Regions from separate parts of the Homo sapiens genome. Here region 1 is linked to region 2. A link means that fine-mapping ties the variant in region 2 to the plasma level of a protein whose gene starts in the linked region. Region 2 holds a variant in brackets. A gene starts in the other region. All regions are shown on their forward strands.

Region 1 (10,286 bases), not on the chromosome of region 2:
ACTCCGTCTCAACAACAACAACAAAAAAACAAATGTAAGATTGCGATTGTATCAAGTATCTTTTCTGACCACAGTGATACGAAACTAGAGATCAATAACAGGAGGAATTCTGGAAAATTCACACGTGAGAATTCAACAACACTCTCCTAAACAACCAATGTGTCAAAGAAGAAATTAAAACGAAATTAAAAAATATCTTGAGGCCAGGTGCAGTGGCTCACGCCTGTAATCCCAACACTTTGGTGGCTGAGGCAGGAGGATCACCTGAAGCCAGGAGTTCAAGACCAGCCTGGGCAACATAGTGAGACGCTCCCCCCATCTCTACAAAAAATAAAAATAATTAGCCAGGCATGGTGATGCTCACCTGTAGTCCCAGTTATTTGGGAGGCTAAGGTGGGAGGAACACTTGAGTTGGAGGCTGCAGTGAGCTACGATTGTGCCACTGCACTCAGCCTGGGTGATAGAGGGAGATGTTTCTAAAAACAAAATAAAACAAACAGAAACAACAACAACAAAAAACTTGAGACAAACTGAAATGGACATACAATATACCTAAACCAATGAATGCAGCAAAAGTGGTTCTAAGAGGGAAGTTTATAGCAATAAATAAATGCCTACATAAAAAAGAAGAAAGATCTTTCAAATAACCAAATTCTCTTTAAAAAGAGGTAACTGGAGGCTGGGCATGGTGGCTCAAGCCTGTAATCCCAGCACTTTGGGAGGCCAAGGCCAGCAGGTCACTTGAGGTCAGGAGTTCGAGACCAGCCTGGGCAACATAGTGAAATGTAGTCTCTCCTAAAAATACAAAAATTAGCCAGACATGGTGGTAGGCGCCTGTAGTCCCAGCTACTCGGGAGGCTGAGGCAGGAGAATCGCTTCAACCCGGGAGGTGGAGGTTGCAGTAAGCCAAGATCCTGCCACTGCACTCCAGCCTGGGCAACAGAGCAAGACTCTGTCTCGAAAAAAAAAAAAAAAAGAGGCAGCTGTGGGTACAACAGGAGTCCAGGCCTGGCAGACGGGGCTCCTGGGGTGTGGATTGCTCCCTACAAGACTCGTGACCATGCAGGGCAGTGGGGGCCCATCAGAAGCCAAGAGTCTCATCAGGGACCTGGAGGCACCAGAGTTCAGGAGAGCTGCAGGCAGCTGGGGTCTGATATGCAAAAGTGACTACAGGAGGACCCCCACTTCTGCCCATAGTGTTCTCCCAGTGCCCCTGAGCCTTTGCCGATGACCTCCCAGTCATCTGCTCTATGGCGCTTCCCCATTGGGGGACTGTCCTTTTCTTCACAGTATTTAAGAAATAAAAATTAGATTTTCCTGGCCAACAAAAAAAGTAAGTAACTTGGCTTCTCTGACCCTCAATCTCCTCCTTTGCACAGTTGGGCCAATGGTGAGCACCCAGGAGCATCCTTCATCCCACTAGAGGTGCCTGCCACTGGGTAGGGCAGATGTGGTGGTGGCTGGTGCAGGCTTCCCAGAACATCTCATCGCCCCTGCCCACCACCTGGCCACTGCAACCAACTGGGCTTGTCTAGAAAGACACCTGCCTACCCACCCAACCCTGCAGGCTCTGGGGTATTGGTCTCTGAATTTGGCTGAGCTACAGGATGGAGACCACCCTCAACTGCTCCCATCATCAGAGGTGCAGAACAGAAGTCGGTGTGGGGGGCACTTGTTCCCCCCAGCTGTGCTGATTTCACACTGGCGGAGAAGAGGACCCTTGCTGATAGCGGACTGCTCTTTTATTTTTTTATGAGATGGAGTTTTGCTCTTGTTGCCCAGGCTGGAGTGCAATGGCAAGATCTTGGCTCACTGCAACTTCCACTTCCTGGGTTCAAGCAATTCTCCTGCCTCAGCCTCCCAAGTAGCTGGGATTACAGGTGCGCACCACCATGCCCGGCTATTTTTTTTTTTTTTTTGTATTTTTAGTAGAGATGGGGTTTCACCATGTTGGCCAGGCTGATCTCGAACTCCTGACCTCAGGTGATCCGCCCGCCTCGGCCTCCCAAAGTGCTGGGATTACAAGTGTGAACCACTGCTCCCGGCCGATAGCGGATTACTCTTAATGCCCCCAGCTGCTGCAGGAGTGGAAGAGGCCAGTCCAGCCCCGACTGTGAAGGTCTGGCCTTTACTCAAAGCAACTGTGGTCCTCAGAACTCCGGGATCATCCCGTTTCTTGCTCCAACCCCTGGGTCCCAGGTCCCCAGCGCGCCCACCCCAGTGCTCCGTGCTTGCTGGTCCCTGGAGGGCCCCCTTACTGGGAACCCTTCCTCCCCGTGAAGGCTGCCGGCGGGACAAACAGTGAGGGGTGAGGCAGGGAGGGAGACTCACGTTGGGGACCTCCCCCAAGTCTGGGTAACACCGTCTTGGCCGCGGCCCGCGGGTTGGGAAGGTAGGGGGCAGTGAGCCGTAGCGGAGAGGCTGGCCCCAGCCCGCCACGCCGCTTCCCCACGCTCGCAGCCACGCGGAGCCGCGTCCTGGTCCAGCCTCACCCACCCAGAGCAAGAGGCGGAGGAACTGGAACAGCGCCCCGGCCCGTGGGCTGCCACTGGCCGCAGCAACGGGACGGGTGAGAGCACCTGCCCCCGACGCGTCTTAACTGCTCTGGTGGGGCGGGGCTGACCGTGCAAGCCCCGCCCCAGTCTAAGCCCCTCCTACAAAGCCCGGCCCCTTACCATAAGCGCCATCTGTCAGGCTCCGCCCACTGTCTTAAATCCCACTCACTCTGCCCTGCCCCTGACTCGGAGCCATATAGCAAGCCCCGCCCATAGCCATAAGCCACGCCCACCCAGCCCTGCCCCTGGGCTCTAAGTGTCATTTATCTAGTCACGTCCCCGGCTAGAAGCCACACCCACCAGGCCCGGCCCCACCTCTAAGCCCCACTCACCCGGCCATGTGGTTTGGGACAGGGAAGTAGGCTAGGGGCCGCCGCCTCTGGGCTCCCAGTGGAAGGGGAGAAATGAGAAAGGAGTTTAGGATGTGATAAATACCCACAGAGGTCAGATGTAGCTATGGATGCAGGCGATAAAAAGTTTAAAGCAATCAGCTGTGCGGCCTCTGCAGCGCTCCTTTCGCCCTCCCTAATCTTCACCTCGTGTCTCCCCCAGTCCCTGTGTCCTGGCTGGGTCCTGCTGCCCCAGGGAAAGAAGACATGCCTTCTCCCATCCTGGCTAACATGGTGAAACCCCGTCTCTACTAAAAATACAAAAAATTAGCCAGGCGTGGTGGCGGGAGCCTGTAGTCCCAGCTACTCGGGAGGCTGAGGCAGGAGAATGGCGTGAACCCGGGAGACGGAGCTTGCAGTGAGCCGAGACAGCGCCACCGCACTCCAGCCTGGGCAAAAGAGCAAGACTCCGTCTCAGAAGAAAAAAAAAAAAGACATGCCTTCTCGGTGAATGTTGCTTTGCTTCCTGAGGGCATGGCTACCCGGGGCTCCTGGCTTTTCTTCCAAAAACAAAACATTTCTTCCATTTTTTCTTTTTCTTTTGTTTTTTTTTTTTTTTTTTTTTTTGAGACAGAGTTTCACTCTTGTCGCCCAGGCTGGAATGCAGTGGCCCAATCTCGGCTCACTGCAACCTCCGCCTCCCGGGTTCAAGCGATTCTCCTGCCTCAGCCTCCTGAGTAGCTGGAATTACAGGTGCCCCCCCACCACACTCGGCTAATTTTTGTAATTTTAGTAGAGATGGGGTTTTGCCATGTTGGCCAGGCTGGTCTCGAACTCCTGACCTCAGAGGATCCGCCTGCCTCGGCCTCCCAAAGTGCTGGTATTACAGGTGTGAGCCACTGTGTCCGGCCACCGTTTTTTTTTCCATTTTTTGAGACAGGGTCTTGCTCTGTTGCCCAGGCTGGAGTGCAGTGGCATGATCACAGCTCACTGCAGCCTCAACCTCCAAGGCTCAAGCAATCCTCACACCTCAGCCTCCTGAGTGGCTGGGACTACAGGTATGCACTACTACGTCAGGCTAATTTTTTAAAAAATTTTTGTAGTGACGCAGGTCTCTCTATATTGCCCGGGGTGGTCTTGAGCTCCTGGGCTCAAGCAATCCTCTGGCCTCGGCCTCCCAAAGTGTTGGGCTTACAGACATGAGCCACCATGCCTGGCCTAGAGAGTTTCTTTCTTGTTGGGGTTGTTCACCGGTGGGAGGTGCACCATTGTGCCGTGCTGACTATATTCATAGAGTTATGTAACCATCACTCTCATCTAATTTCAGAACAAAAGGAAACCCATACCCTCTCACAGTCAGTCCTTCATTCTCCCCTCCCCCCATCCTGTGGCCACCGCTAATTTACTTTCTGTTTCTATGGATTTGCCTGTGATCACAACCAGAGGATTTCTGTGACATGCTAAGTTACCTAACCATGGTGTGGAAGGAGAGGGAAATGGAGTGAAGTTGGGGACCCACCAGGGAACAGGTGGCTTGAGGGCGGGGGGAGCATGAAGGTAAGGGCTTGTTTGGGGGCTCAAGGCAGTCTGAGCCTTGTTCGCAGGCAGCCAGTGTCCACCAGGTGTGTGCAGGTGAGGGAAACAGGGGAAAAGGCCCTTTCTGGAGACAGTAGGGGTGCTGGCTGGGAGGCCTGGGATGGGGAGTGGGGAGGCAAGGGGGCCTGTGGGTCGAGGTTGGAGCTTGCTGTAGAAGAGGGAGAATTCCAGAGGCTGAGAGTGCAGGTGGAGAGGAGGAGGAAGGGAGGAGGGCGGGCAGGGGGTGGCTGGGTGGGGCTCTGTCTATAAAGAGTGAAGCTCAGCGTGTTGGTCCTGCAGATGGGACAGCTTGGCCTACAGCCCGGCGGGCATCAGCTCCCTTGACCCAGTGGATATCGGTGAGTCTTTTCCTTGAACATGACTGAGATGAACAGCTTTTCCCTCCAGCACAACTTGTTCCTACTTTATACAACCTCCTTCCCTTGCCATATGCCTGGGGCTTAAGAGGGGGGATGTTCCCAGTACCCACTCCCCTCCTCTTCCTCAGTCCTTACCACTTCCCTCCACGACCCCAGGTGGCCCCGTTATTCGTCCAGGTGCCCAGGGAGGAGGACCCGCCTGCAGCATGAACCTGTGGCTCCTGGCCTGCCTGGTGGCCGGCTTCCTGGGAGCCTGGGCCCCCGCTGTCCACACCCAAGGTACTGTGTTCGGCAATGCCTACCACCAAGTGCCCCTCTCCCCATGCCCCCACCCCACCCCTTTTGTCTCTTATCTCCTCCGGAAGTCTCCCCAATCCCATCTCCACTGAATTCTCCCGCTCCTGACATGCAGGAACTCCTGGTGTTTGGTTAGCTCTTGGGATGGGGTCGGGGAGATGGAGAGTCCCCAGTTCCTTCTTCGAGAGCCCCATGGAGTCTTTTGCAAGACTCCTAAAGATGTGAGGGAGCAGAGGGTGGCTTCCAGCTGTGGGCAAAGCCAGTTACTGCCAGGGATGTATTGTAGAATCCTAATCCTGCCGAGCCAGGGGTGGGGTTGGAGATCAGGGCCCTGGAGACTGACAAGAGTGGATTCCCATCCTGGTCCCTCCATGCAGTCCAGCTGAGAGTTAGTTGCTCCTAAACCATTTTTTTTTTTTTTTTTTTGAGACAGAGTCTCACTCTGTCACCCTGGCTGGAGTGCAGTGGCGCGATCTTGGCTCACTGCAACCTCCGCCTCCTGGGCTCAAGCGATCCTTCTGCCTCAGCCTCCCAAGTAGCTGGGACTACAGGCGTGTGTACCATGCCCGGCTAATTTTTGTATTTTTTAGTAGAGATGGGGTTTCACTATGTTGGCCAGAGTAGTCTCGATCTCCTGATCTCAGGCGATCCGCCTGCCTCAGCCTCCCAAAGTGCTAGGATTACAGGTTTGAGCCACTGTGCCCGGCTTCCTAAACCTTTAGGAGCCTCCGTTTCCTCAGCTGCAAAGTGGGAATCTAAAATTCCCACTGCATGGCTCTGACTTGAGGGTCCAGTGAGCTCATGCCTGCAAAAGACTAGGCCTCATGTCTGGCGGCGGCAATAGTAACTGTTCCTGTTATTAATAGGGAACTCTTTCCTTCTTCCCCACTCCCTACCGCAGAGCAAGCACTTGAGGATTTCAGTCGCCAAAGGACAATTCCTGGGCCTGGGGTGTCCCCACGGGAGCCCTGACACTGGGTCCTACATCCTCTGAGTTTCAGCAGCTGGCCAAAGCAGGGTCCCTGGCTGGGCGGCAGACCCAGGGTCCCACCCTCCTTCCCTGTCTGCCCCCACCTGACCCACCTGCCCCTCGGCTGGGTCTGATGGGTCCAAGTCCTTGGCCTTTGCCTGGGAAGGGGGTTGGGCTGTGGTCTGATTGTTTTGCTATCAGAGCCAGGCCCAGCCCAGCCCTTCGATCCTGGCCTCCAGCCTTGGGAACTACCTGCCTGGCACTGCAGTCCGAGGTTCCAACAGAATGCGCTGCCCCTTGCCCTCAGAGGCCGCGGTTGGGAGACACCTGGAGGGCTCGAGTCCTCCCTTTCCCTGCTCCTGCTGGGCTGGGCTCTGCAGGGACTCAGACTCGGCCTCTGGAGGTTAGTTCTGGCAGAGGTGAGATTGCAGAGAACTCCAAAGGCCATTTAGGCAGAGAATTGCACCCCAGCTTCCTCCACTATCTCATCAGCTCATCCTCGGCTCATTCATTCCACCTGCTCATCCCCCCAGAACTTTCTGGCATCACCTCCTCCTCCTCTGGGCACCCCCCACAGTGCCTGTGCTTCCCCCTTTCTGCAGAGATCAGTTTCCCGGGAGCTCCCTGAAGACAACACTAGGTCTAATTCATCTGTGTGTTTCATCTCTGCTTGTCTAGACATTGACATTTACTGAGAGCTCTTTACTTTGTATTAAAACAATTTTTTGTTTGTTTGGTTGGTGTTTTGTTTTGTTTCATTGAGACAGAGTTTTGCTATTGTCGCCCAGGCTGGAGTGCAATGGCGTGATCTCGGCTCACTGCAACCTCCACCTCCTGGGTTCAAGTGATTCTCCTGCCTCAGCCTCCAGAGTAGCTGGGATTAAAAGCGCCCACTATCAGCCAGGCACAGTGGCTCACGCCTGTAATCCCAGCACTTTGAGAGGCCAAGGCGGGTGGATCACAAGGTCAAGAGATCAAGACCATCCTGGCCAACATGGTGAAACCCCGTCTCTACTAAAAATACAAAAATTAGCTGGTCGTGGTGGCGGGCGCCTGTAATCCCAGCTACTCGGGAGGCTGAGGCAGGAGAATCGCTTGAACCCGGGAGGCAGAGGTTGCAGTGAGCTGAAATTGAGCCACTGCACTCCAGCCTGGGTGACAGAGTGAGACTCTGGAAAAAAAAAAAAAAAAGGCGCCCACCACCATGCCTGGCTAATTTTTGTTTTTTGTTTTGTTTTGTTTTGAGACGGTGTCTCACTCTGTCGCCCAGGCTGGAGTGCAGTGGCGCGATCTCGGCTCACTGCAAGCTCTGCCTCCCGGGTTCACGCCATTCTCCTGCCTCAGCCTCCCGAGTAGCTGGGACTCCAGGCGCCCACCACCACACCCGGCTAATTTTTATATTTTTAGTAGAGACGGGGTTTCACCGTGTTAGCCAGGATGGTCTCAATCTCCTGACCTCGTGATCCGCCCACCTTGGCCTCCCAAAGTGCTGGGATTAAAGGCATGAGCCACCGCGCCCGGCCTAATTTTTATATTTTTTAGTAGAGACGGGGTTTCACCATATTGGCCAGGCTAGTCTCAAACTCCTGACCTCAGGTGATCCACCCACCTCAGCCTCCCAAAGTGCTGGGTTTACAGGCATGAGCCACTGTGCTGAGCTGCCAATCAGCTCATTTTTAGGAGGGAAGAACTTGGCTGGGGAGGGGTGGTGTTGGCCCCTCCTCACAGTGCACCTGCACTCCGAGTCACCCTTTTCCCCAGAGCAGGAGTAGAGGTGGCCTTGGTCCGTTCATTTGCTGGTTCCACACCCTTCCCAGCCGGGACCCAAGGGTCCTCTCCAACCTCTGGCTGTCCCAATATCCAGGGATAAGGGGTGAGCCAGGAGGCTTTTTCTTTCCTAAGGCTGTTCCTCAGCCTCTGCCGGGCCTGGAAGGGTTGTGGTATGAGCAGACAGGTATGCAGACAGGTGCCCTTGCCTGTGGCTGGCCCTGCCAAGTTAACATGCAAGGGTGCGAGTATCTGGGCGGCTGTGTGGTTGCAGGTGTCTTTGAGGACTGCTGCCTGGCCTACCACTACCCCATTGGGTGGGCTGTGCTCCGGCGCGCCTGGACTTACCGGATCCAGGAGGTGAGCGGGAGCTGCAATCTGCCTGCTGCGATGTGAGTGGGGCCGTGGGGGCTGGGGGGGTGGGGTGCACACACAGCCTTGCTGCCAGCCTACACCCTAACCTGGGCACCCCCCTCTGCTCACCACAGATTCTACCTCCCCAAGAGACACAGGAAGGTGTGTGGGAACCCCAAAAGCAGGGAGGTGCAGAGAGCCATGAAGCTCCTGGATGCTCGAAATAAGGTTTTTGCAAAGCTCCACCACAACACGCAGACCTTCCAAGGTGGGCAAGACCTCTGCTGGGCATCTAGGGGGCCTGCCCTCCCTGCCTGCAAGCCCATGTGTGGTTCAGACCCCGAGGGAGGGAATTGGAGACCAGAATACTGACACCTGCCTGAACCCCAAACAAAGCCAGTTGCTGGTGAGTGGGGCACCAAGTGAATGACCAACTGATTGAGTCATTGTCCAGTTTTTGTTTCTGGAGATGGGGTCTTGCTCTGTTGCCCAGGCTGGAGTGCAGTAGCATGATCATAGCTCACTGCGGCCTCAAACTTGTGGGTTCAAGCAATCCTCCCACTTCAGATTCCCCAAGTAGCTGGGATTACAAGTGTGTGCCACCAGTCCAGCTCTTTTATTATTATTTTGAGACAGAGTCTTACTGTGTCACCCACGCTGGAGTGCAATGGCGCCATCACAGCTCACTGAAGCCTTGACCTCCCAGGCTCAAGCAATCCTCCTACCTCAGCCTCCTGAGTAGCTGGGACTACAGGCATGCTCCACTAATCCAGCTCATTGTTATTTTATTTTTTATTTTTATTTTTTGAGATGGAGTCTTGCTGTGTCATCCAGGCTGGAGTGCAGTGGCACGATCTCGGCTCACTGCAACCTCTGCCTCCTGAATTCAAGCGATTCTCCCGCCTCAGCCCCCTAAGTAGCAGGAGCACAGGCCCACGCCACCACGCCTGGCTAATTTTTGTATTTTTAGTAGAGACGGGGTTTCACCATGTTGGCCAGGCTGGTCTCGAACTCCTGACCTCAGATGATCTGCCCGCCTTGGCCTCCCAAAGCACTGGGATTATAGGCATGAACCACCATGCCTGGCTCCAGCTCATTATTATTATTATTATTTTGAGACAGGGTTTTACTCTTGTCACCCAGGCTGGAGTGCAGTGGCACAATCACATCTCACTGCAGCCTTGTGTTCCTGGGCTCAAGCAATCCTCCCACGTCAGCCTCCCAAGTAGCTGGGATTACAGGCACACACCACCATGCCTGGGTAATTTTTTATTTTCATTTTGCAGAGACAGGTTGTGCCATGTTGCCCAGGCTGGACTTGAACCCCTGGACTCAAGCAATCCACCTGCCTTGGCCTCCCAAAGTGCTGGGACTACAGGCATGAGCCACTGCACCCAGCCAGTCCAGCTCTTTTAATCAGGACACTTTCCACTGGTACAGATGGAAAGCTCAAGCACATGGGAGACTCATTGGCTTAAATAACCAGTCAACAGCTTCAGGCTCAGCTGGATCCAGGAGCTCAAAGGATGATGGCAGAGCTCTTGCTTATTTCTCTCTCCATTTCTCCAGCAGGCCCTCATGCTGTAAAGAAGTTGAGTTCTGGAAACTCCAAGTTATCATCGTCCAAGTTTAGCAATCCCATCAGCAGCAGTAAGAGGAATGTCTCCCTCCTGATATCAGCTAATTCAGGTAAGGACTCTTGGTCATGTGACTGTCTCCCATCCATCACCTTTGCTGAGGGTTGAGGGCTCGTGATTGGCTCACACTGGGACAGGAGATTCACCTCCAGGACCCAGGAGAGGTGGTTGTGCGGTCAGTGCCGCAGATTCACAGGGGAGGGTCCTCGGTGGCTGTCCACTGCTGTGACTCAGCGCAAAGACACCACAGCAAGTGAGAAAGTAAAGCCCCAGGGGAGTGGCCCAAGAGCTCCAGGGCCCCCCAAAGCCAGCAATTCTCCAGCAGGGACCGGGTGGTTGTCCTGTAATTCTACTGAATTCTGACATTGTGTGTGTGTGTCTCTCTCTATATATACATATAAAATATATATAAGTAAATATAT
Region 2 (10,286 bases):
CATTCATTTACACAAATATTTACTTAGCGCATACCTCGAGCCAGGCATTGTGCCAGGCCGTGTAGGTGTGATGACCAGGATGTGGTTTCTAGCATCTACAGCTTCATTTAGGAGGAAAGCTAAGGTGCCTATATCAAAATGGTTGTAATATAAAGCAGTCATTAAGTTTTGCAAACATAGGACGCATATGTTTCTGTGACACCTCTTGAAATGGGGGCACAGCTCTCCCAACTAATATTTCATGGAAATGGTGACATTTTGGGACGTTTTGAAGAGTTGGTAAGATTTTGGTGGATACAGAAAGGCTATTCGAGACAGAAAGAGTTACGTCAACAAAGACCAAGAGTCGGGGAAAGTTTATGTTTGAGAATACTGAGCAGCTGAGTTTGGTGAAACAGAGGGTATAAGAAGAATAGAGGATGATGCTGTATGTGGAAGGCTGAATAAAGACCTTAAAGAGTGGCATTTATTCAGTAGCTAGCAGAAAGCAGTTGAAAGTTTTAGAATACGGCAGCATTGTAGAATGGGACGGGTAAGGGTAACAATACTTTTGGTGTGGCATGGTGGTTCTGGAACAGGGTCCTGACGAGTCCCCTTGTTGAGCCCAACATTAACTCTTTAGCTGCTGGGTCGTGAAGCTGTCCTGGGGAGGGGTCCGGGTGGCAGTGGGACACTCAGAGGGCCTGGGGCAGCCACTGTACTAACACATGCTTAAGGATTTCAGTGTTTTAATAAGTGGTACGGCTATCCTGGTGTGTACTGGCTGAAAAGCAGCCCTGGGAACAAATTGTTATTGGAAGTTAAAGATTCTCCAATTAGGCAGGTTTTCACAAGTTATATACCCATTTGTTCATATTGGATCAGCAAAGATTCTATCTGAAGGCAGAGTTCTGGACTAGAGGCCGGGGGTGGTGGCTCACACCTGTAATCCCAGCACTTTGGGAGGCCGAGGCGGGCAGATCATTTGAGGTCAGGAGTTCGAGACCAGCCTGGCCAACATGGCAAAACCCCATCTCTACTAAAAAAGATTAAAAAAATACCCAGGCATGGTGGCGCACACCTGTAATCCCAGATACTGGGGAGGCTGAGGCAGGAGAATTGCTTAACTCAGGAGGCAGAGGTTGCAGTGAGCTGAGATTGCACCACTGTACTCCAGCCTGAGTGACAGAGCGAGACTCTACTTAAAAAAAAAAAATGGTTTCTAGAGATGAAATATCTCAGAGCCAAGGGATGACATTTGGGCGCAAATCCAAGACAGAAGGATGGCATGTGCTGGCTCCTTTTAGATCTCCCATTTAAGTGCCAGGATTACTTGCTGGATCCCAAAGTATTCTGAAGCTCAGGAAGCCGTTGGCTTTCGCTGCCTTACCTCTATCTGTACCACATCTCTCTGGTTGGCCTTTGTGACTTCTGGCTGACTCGAGTGGGCTGAGGGAGGCACACCCGCGGTGTGAGGCAGTGACTGCAGCTCTGGCCACCACAGCCGTTCTGATTTGGAAAGGATACAAACCCTCCAGTGAGAGAGGTAATGCAGGGCACAGCAGTAATCTGAGATGCAGGCAGGGAGAGAGGGAGAAGCAAATGAGACAGATGTGTGGGCAGAGGAGGGATAGTGTGGCATGGAGTTGAAACCCAGTGAAGCAGCAAGCACAACCGCCTCGTGTGCTCCTGTGGGCAGGGACTGTGTCTCATGCAGCTCTGGTGGGTGTGTGCCTCTCTGTCCCAGGGAACCTCCTTTTCACGTGGTTTACCTCTCGTGTAGCTCCTTTTCACGTGTCCGGTTTATCGCTCTTTATGCTGATATTCCAGTCACCAGGCTACTATGTGTGTCTTCTAATCAACTTTCAATTCTGGGCACATACTAGGCGCTCAGATAAGTACCTTCTCGTTATGAATGTGTCAGCTCTGAATTTCCAAGCACCTGATATTTTCCACTGGCAGATACTGTGTTTATCAGGGACTGATCCAAGAATAGAACCTAGGAATTCTTGTTCCCTGTACCATAATACATATACACAACAATAGCCTTTGAATACAAATACAGAAGATAAGCGATAAGACATCAATGGTTTTTTTTTTTTTAATCATAAGCGTATTTTCTTTGGGCATTGCCTATACGAGGAATGCAGTTTTTGACAATAGGTGACCTTACCCATATTTAGAGTCTCTCCTTTCCCTGGTCTCTCAGTCCCTGTGCTGATGTGGCCGGCGAACCTCAGCAACACATCTGCCATCTTTACCCTGCCTACTACCCAGGGACCCTCAAGTTGAGGTCCCATTCCCCTGCTTGATGGTGCTGGGGCTGCCTGCCACTCCCTGTCCTGGGAGTTGAGGTCCCATTCCCCTGCTTGATGGTGCTGGGGTTGCCTGCCACTCCCTGTCCTGGGAGTTGAGGTCCCATTCCCCTGCTTGATGGTGCTGGGGCTGCCTGCCACTCCCTGTCCTGGGGGTTGAGGTCCCATTCCCCTGCTTGATGGTCCTGGGGCTGCCTGCCACACTCCCTGTTCTGGGAGTTGAGGTCCCATTCCCCTGCTTGATGGTGATGGGGTTTCCTGCCACTCCCTGTCCTGGGAGTTGAGGTCCCATTCCCCTGCTTGATGGTGCTGGGGTTGCCTGCCACTCCCTGTCCTGGGAGTTGAGGTCCCATTCCCCTGCTTGATGGTGCTGGGGCTGCCTGCCACTCCCTGTCCTGGGAGTTGTTCAGACGCTGTGCATGGTTATAACTGCTTTGTAGCACAAGGTCTTCTGAAAGTGCTTCCGTGCTGGCTTCTGGAGAGGCTGGTAAGTACGCTGCAGTAATTTTCCAGGCCATGGAGCCTGGGCTTGCCCTCTAGTGCTGAGCTTTGTGGAGCAGAGCAGAGCAGCCGACATAGCAGAGTTTGCTTTGGAAGGGGTCCTAGAGGCTGTTCTTGGAGTTGGCCGCTCGCTGTCTAGTTCTCCTCTGCAGCGTTCCACCAGTCTCAAAAACTACGCTTTTATTTTCCACAAGCACTTTTCGTTATATGTAAAGATTATGTGGTCTCAACTAGGCCAACCAGACATTTGGAGTTTTCAGACAATTCTTTGACCTTGTGATTCACATAATTAATAGATTTATATGTTAACCACTATACAAAAATGCGAGTGGAAGAGGTGAGAATAGTCGGATAGTGGCTCTAAAGGGCACTGGGCTGCATGTGTTGTATATTCTGAGCAAAGTGTGACAGATCTTTAAATTTTTGCAGACTCAAGTTAACAAGTGCTACTTTGAATTTAGAAGTATCCATTGGATGAGCAAAAATGAATATTCTTTGTATTCTTGTAATATTTTAGTATATAATTTATTTTTATGTTCAATATGTTCTTTATTTCATAACTACAAAAGGCCTGATACTGACCAACTTTTAAGAAAATAAACATGCAAATCGTCCCTGTGGTTCCTCTTTTTTTTCAAGTATATGTACGGAAAGCTTGATGAGCAGTTTTCACAAACTGAAAATACCTGTGTTGGGAGCACCACGATGAAGACACAGAGTATTACCAGTACCCCAGTACCCCGGTGGGGGCGGTGCTATGAATCACTACCATCAGCATAGATTAGTTTAGCATATTTTAATATTTTATATAAATGGAATAATACAGATTGTGGTTCTTTTTTTATTAGCAATTTTTTAAATTAAATTAATGAAAGTATTTTTTGAGACTGAGTCTTACTCTGTCTCTCAAGCCAGAGTGCAGTGGTGTGATCTTAGCTTATGCAGCCTTGAACTCCTGGGCTCAGTGACAGGAGTGAGCCACTGTGCTCGGCCTCATTTTAAAATGATATTCTTTATGATGATAAAAATAATGCAGCCAGGTGTGGTGGCTCACACCTGTAATCCCAGCACTTTGGGAGGCCAAGGTGGGCAGATCACTTGAGGTCAGGAGTTCGAGACCAGCCCGGCCAACATGATGAAAGCCCATCTCTACTACAACTACAAAAAGTAGCTGGGTGTGGTGGTGTGTGCCTGTAGTCCCAGCTACTCGGGAGGCTGAGGCACAAGAGTCGCTTGAACCTGGGAAGCAGAGGCTGCAGTGAGCCAAGATGGCGCCACTGCACTCCAGCCTGGGTGACAGCAAGACTGTGTCTTAAATAAATAAATAAACAAAATAAAATAGGGATAAAAATAATCCATGCTTATTATACTAGACAACAGCTGTGTA[T/C]CTGGACCACATTAACCCTGCGAAAGCACTTTTTTGCCTTTAGGCACCACAGCATCACTAACAAAATAACCTAAGGCCAAGGAAGACCAGGGGCCTCAAGACTGCAGGATACATAGTAGCCTCTGGAATTCTCCAGTAGCACCCTGCCAGGGTGGAGTTGAGAACTGTTGCTCATTCCTGTATGAGAACGCTCTAAACATGTTTCTTCTGGTCTTGGTCTTAGAAACAGCTGTGCTTCTCTTGAGCGGTTTGTTTTAATTTCTATTGGTCACGTAAGTTGCATAATCACTCAGATTTCTCTCGTCGTGTTGGTTACTAGGAAGCTTTAGGGTTCAGTTTTTTCTTCACCTGGAGAAAAGTGTAAAGGATTTTATGATCTGTATTTTTCTACTAATTTTATGACTGTACCTTTATTTTATCTCCCCACTCCCACAACTAACTACTTCCAGTTTATGTCATCTTATCTTATATGGTCATTGTAAACTACTTTAGTTTTTCCTGGACCAAATCAAGGCATAAAATAAATCAACAAAAGTGCTATGGTATACATACAAATATGAAGAAGAAATGAACAATCACCTAAAATGTCACCACTCTGACCTAGACATTGTTGAAAAAATGAAGTGTAATAAGCAGTGATAAGCAGATGTTGGATTCCAGGATGCCTTAGACAAAAAGTCTGGATTTAAAAACTTAAAAAGCCAAAAAAGTATTGCCCTGACCTTTTTGGGGGTCTTTATTTAGGTACTGAAAAGTTGAATCACATCCACAAATAAATTATTACGTCTTTCCATATAAGAAGACTACCAAAAGCTTAGAATTTACTGACAGATATTGGGGACTGAGCCACTTTTGTTGAAAACAGTGACACCATACAAGGCAAATTCAATAAAATTGGAGGCATCCTTGACACTACCGAGAGAACAGCCGAGAGACTGGCCAGGAAGGCCAGAAACCTGGTGTGTCATGTGGGCACCCATCCCTGCAAAGGTCTCACACCAGCTCCTCACACCAGCAAGGACACCTCAACATGAAGATCTATGGCTGCTGCCAGCCTGTGGCTTTTGGATGCATAAAGTCACAAACTAATTTAGAGACCTAGCCCCTGTATTAGCAGCTGAGAATCCCTGCCCAGGGAATAGACTTCATGTGTCTCTTCCACCCATTTCTTCTTTGAAATTGTGTTCTCGTGGTGCCTAGCAGAGGCTATGTGTGTGTCTCACTCTGCACAGCTCACATTCTGCTTTGTGGCCACACGACCCAGGAAGAGGGCCCACAAATGGACGAGAATAGAGAGAGGTGGGAGTGGAAATAGAGAAACCACATTCCAGGCCGACCAAAGACTTTATGTATAAATGCTCAGGAAATTGAACGTTGTGTATTCTGCAGTTTTTATTTATTTTGTAAACCTTGAGTGGCTGCAGAAGTGATTCATTCTAAACTTAAAGCAGAATGTTTATGGAGCATTTACTTTTTGTGGCAGACTCTGAGTGGACTGAAAAGCATTGATAATTCCTGGAAAAACTGTGGAGTCTGAAGGCAGGGCAAGGTTCCAGTTCAAGCGCCATGACTCACCAATCGTGAGACCTTGTAGGAAGGTACTTATTCCTTTGTAAGTCTCGGGAGCCTTGTCTGGGTAGTGGAGCTATAATGCTGTTCCCGTAGAACTTTCCTTATGACTAAATGAGGTTTAGTGAGCCGAGCACATATTAGGATCTCAATGAATATTGGTTCCCATCTCCTCCCTCTCAGTCTGATAGGAATTAGAGAATGGCTGGGCAGGAGGGGACAAATAGACACATTCCTCAACTGGCCCTTTTTCCAGTGCTTCTTAAACTTCTCAGCCCATGACACAGCTGTGTCCAGTACCCCAGCATTACTGTGCCATCCATATCCAGCACTTGCCACCAAATACACATTCTTCAATCACTTTTTTCCTCCATGATGTTCAGCAATGCCTGCATCTTTCCATCCCAGGCAAAGATTTATATTAGGGGTGGGGGCCAGGTTAGGAGTCAAGGATTTTGCGGAGAACGAGAGCTGTCTGGGGGGCTGTACCAGGACACAGAAGCACAGCAACTGGGAAGCGATAGCCTCTCACTCTGCTGCATACCCCTGTGTACACACTGGGATTTCTGGGACTAAAAGGCAGGAACACCTGGCAGTTATCTCATTATTTATTTATTTTTAAAAAATTTTGTTTTTAGAGATGGGGTCTCACTATGTTGCTCAGGCTGGTCCTGAACTCTTAGGCTCAAGGGATCCTCCCACCTCAGCCTTCCAAAGTGCTGAGATTACAGGCATGAGCCACCGCGCATGGCCAGTTAATGTACACCGTGCATGGCCAGTGTACATCCTAGCTTTGTAACTAATTTGCCTGGTTTCCTGTCTACAGGAAATCAGTTTACCTGTAACTAATTTCCTGTCCTTTTGAGGGCTTCAGTTCCATAATCTTTGGAGTGAGATGCTTCCTTGCAGGAGTAGATTTGGAAGTTGCGCACGTCACTAAGGGGTGAAAGGGACAGTCGGAAGGGAATATCTTTGACATCTGGCCCTGGTCTTTCAAGGCTCAGTCGCCTGAACCGAGAGGTGGCAGCTCTCCCAATAGTTCTGACTGCTTTCGCCTCCAAGGTCATCTCTGACAACATGGTCTCCGTACAAGCAGTTGCCTAAAAGATTAAAGGCCTCCCTGCTGAGATCTTCTTACAAATCCTCTGATCCACTGCTTTCCACCCTGCCTGCCAAGCCCAGGTTCAAACGAATGTGTGCAGTGTGTGCTCACGCACACCTCCCTCACCAGCCAGCTGGTCCCGACTGCTCACCAGCACCTCTTAGCAAAGGTGGGCAGGAGGATGAGGACGTGGAGGATTCCCTCATGGACCAGGCACACAGCGCAATACGTACTCTCTGTCCCGGGTCTCCTTTCTTCCCATTTCAGCTGAGTAGAGGGCCTGGGAAAGGGCAGTGGAGATGGGCAGCACGTCCCAGGTGAATGACTTCCGATAGCAGAAGGCAGGGGACGTTGCACAGGCACAGAAAATGGGTAGAGAAATGAGGGAACGAAATGGAGGGAGAGACCGCTACCCCATTTTTTCATTTTAGTGACTGTTTTGTTTTGTTTTGTTTTGAGATGGAGTCTCGCTCTGTCACCCAGGCTGAAGTGCAGTGGCACGATCTCGGCTCACTCTAACCTACGTCCCCCAGGTTCAAGACATTCTCCTGCCTCAATCTCCCGAGTAGCTGGGATTACAGGCATGTGTCACCATGCCCAGCTAATTTTTGTATTTTTAGGTTTCGCCATGTTGGTCAGGCTGGTCTCGAACTCCTGACCTCAGGTGATGCGCCCGCCTCAGCCTCCCAAAGTGCTGGGATTACAGGCGTGAGCCACCGTGCCCAGTGTAGTGACTGTATTTTTCATATCTGTAAGTTTTATTTTGTTCTATTTCAAATTTGTTGGGTTTTTAAACACTACATTGTGGCTGGGCGCGGTGGCTCACACCTGTAATCACAGCACTTTGGGAGGCTGAGGCAGGCAGAGTTCGAGGTCAGGAGTTTGAGATCAGCCAGGCCAACATGGCAAAACCCTGTCTACTAAAAATACAAAAATTAGCTGGACGTGGTGGCACATGCCTGTAATCCAAGCTACTCGGGAGGCTGAGGCTGGAGAATCGCTTGAACCCAGGAGGCGGAGGTTTCAGGGAGCTGATTTTGTGCCACTGCACTCCAACGTGGGTGACAGAGTGAGACTCTGTCTCAATAAATAAATAAATAAATAAATAAATAAATAAATAAATAGGCTGGGCACGGTGGCTCATGCCTGAAATCCTGGCACTTTGGGAGGCCGAGGTGGGTGGATCACCTGAGGTCATGAGTTCAAGACCAGCCTGGCCAACATGGTGAAACCCCGTCTCTACTAAAAATACAAAAATTAGCTGGGCATGAGATTACATGCCTGTAATCTCAGCTACTTGGGAGGCTGAGGCAGGAGAATTGCTTGAACCTGGGAGGCAGAGGTTGCAGTGAGCCAAGATTATGCCATTGCACTACTGCCTGGGCAACAGAGCAAGACTCTGTCTCAAAATAATAATAAAAAATAAATAAATAAATAAATATAAATAAACTACATCATTCTTCTGCATTTAAAAAATTTAAAACAAATTTATTTAATTATCTAAAATTGTTGGTTGCAAGAGGCTGCCAATATGTTAGCATCTGCTTACTGCTCTGATTTTTACATCTTCAAATTTGGCTGCTGGAGATTCTCTTACCTTGTGGAGGGCTTTACTATGTAAATAAAACAGCAGTTTGTCATACTTCATCTAGCATTTTTAATATTTTGCTGTGGGTATTTTCCAAAAGGAAGTCCTCTGGCTTGAATTTCTAATACCTCCTCCAGCGACAGCAGGCTGTTGTTATTCGGGTGTGTGTGTCTAAGCAAAGGTGAATATTTCCATTTGAGGAATATAGCATAAGCTAAGTGGAAAGTCTGGGGAATACAAACTTTTGTAGGGAACACAAGTTCTGTAGTGCAGAGGCTTGAAGGAGATGAAGATGAAATGGTAGTTGCAACCTCATTGTGGACTCTCCTGAGGGCCAGGTTGCTGAGTTTGGACTTGGTAGGGAGCAACATACATTTATTTTATTGATTAACTGATGTTTTTTATTTTTAGAGACAGTGTCTCAGTCTGTTGCCCAGCCTGGAGTTTGGTGGCATGATCATGGCTCGCTGCAGTCTCAAACTCTTGGACTCAAACAATCACCCCACCTCAGCCTCCCAAGTAGGCAAGACTGCAGGTGCATGCCACCATGCCTGCTTATTTTATTTTATTTATTTTTTGAGACGGAGTCTCGCTCTTTCGCCCAGGCTGGTGCATCTTGGCTCACTGCAAGCTCCGCCTCCCGGGTTCACGCCATTCTCCTGCCTCAGCCTCCCGAGTAGCTGGAACTACAGGTGCCCGCCACCACGCCTGGCTAATTTTTTGTATTTTTAGTAGAGGCGGGGTCTCACAGTGTTAGCCAGGATGGTCTCGATCTCCTGACCTCATGATCCGCTGGCCTTGGCCTCGCAAAGTGCTGGGATTACAGGCGTGAGCCACCGCGCCCGACCTATGCCTGCTAATTTTAAAATTTTCTTTGTAGAGACAGAGTCTCACTATGTTGCCTAGGCTGGTTCAAACTCTTGGACTCAAGCAATATTTTTGCGTCTATCTCCAAAACTGCTGGGATTACAGGCACAAGCCACTGTGACTGTGTCTAGCCAACATAAATTGTTTAAAGCAGGAGTTTGATATGGAGGGAGTGTTTTCTTTTTTTCATCCACTGATTTGTACTTTAATTGTTCAAACACTTTTTTTTTTTTTTTTTTTTGGATACAGAATCTTGCTTTTTCACCCAGGCTGGAGTCTAGTGGTTCACTGCAGCCTCGACTTCTTCAGCTTAAGCAATCCTCCTGCCTTGGCCTCCCTAGTAGCTAAGACCACAGGCATACACCACCATGCCTAGCTAATTTTTAAACTTTTTGTAAAGATGGGCCTCAGTATGTTGTCCAGACTGGTCTTGAACACCTGGGCTCAAGCAATCCTCTTTCCTCAGCCTCCCAAAGTGCTGAGATTACAGGCGTGAGCCACCCCACTGCCTTTAAATACTTACCAACCCCTTCTACATCCCAGGAACTTGTGACTGTAGGTTGATTAGGCTGTTGGAAGTTTGCAGGATGGCTAGGATGTAGTGAGGTGGTTACTGCAGTGACCGAGAGGGTGGGTGGTGAGCGCCTAGCCGGAAGGAGTGGCAGATGAAAGCTGAGACATGTCAAGGCAGGAAGTGACAGAGTTTGGCAGTAGGGTTGATGGAGAAGGTGATGGAATACCAAAGTTGTGGGTTTCATACGTGGGTCTCTGGCTGTACTCTGCCACAATCATTTAATTAAGGGTTGTCTTGTGCATCCAGCATCTCAGAAATGGTCTCCTGAGAAAAAAATGCCTTCATTTGTCCTTGTACTTTCCTCTCTGGAGCTTGAGTACCATGGTGGTCCTACAGAAGAATGCAAAGGGTGGGGAGGCAGACATTCATTCAGCAGGTGTTTACTGAGCACTTGTTATATGCCA

Which allele goes with the higher level. Positions count from the first base shown, and alleles are read on the strand shown. Strength reflects both the effect of a copy and how common the allele is.
In carriers of allele T in region 2, the plasma level of the protein whose gene starts at base 4,756 in region 1 tends to be lower than with C alone (moderate association).

The links. A credible set is the group of variants that fine-mapping cannot tell apart. PIP is the chance, under the fine-mapping model, that this variant and not a neighbour inherited with it causes the effect. Protein levels are from antibody-based Olink assays in UK Biobank. Linkage for the fine-mapping came from a reference panel and not from the study's own genotypes, which makes the PIPs less certain.
Region 1: it holds the start of CCL25, and the variant in region 2 is the best candidate, but not a certain one, in a credible set for the plasma level of the CCL25 protein (UK Biobank, PIP 0.78).

The regions. Positions count from the first base shown.
Region 1 is chr19:8,048,005-8,058,290 of GRCh38, forward strand. It overlaps CCL25 (C-C motif chemokine ligand 25), which reads left to right and starts at 4,756. Exons shown (of 6, transcript NM_005624.4): 1 at 4,756-4,818; 2 at 4,996-5,118; 3 at 8,148-8,265; 4 at 8,362-8,495; 5 at 9,797-9,916. The coding sequence starts at 5,046. RefSeq lists silencers at 2,309-2,398, 2,699-2,758.
Region 2 is chr12:463,448-473,733 of GRCh38, forward strand. All of the region lies in intron 1 of B4GALNT3 (beta-1,4-N-acetyl-galactosaminyltransferase 3), which reads left to right. It overlaps LOC124902853 (a long non-coding RNA gene), which reads left to right and starts at 8,292. Exons shown (of 2, transcript XR_007063151.1): 1 at 8,292-10,286. The variant T/C (reference allele first, on the strand shown) is at 4,183.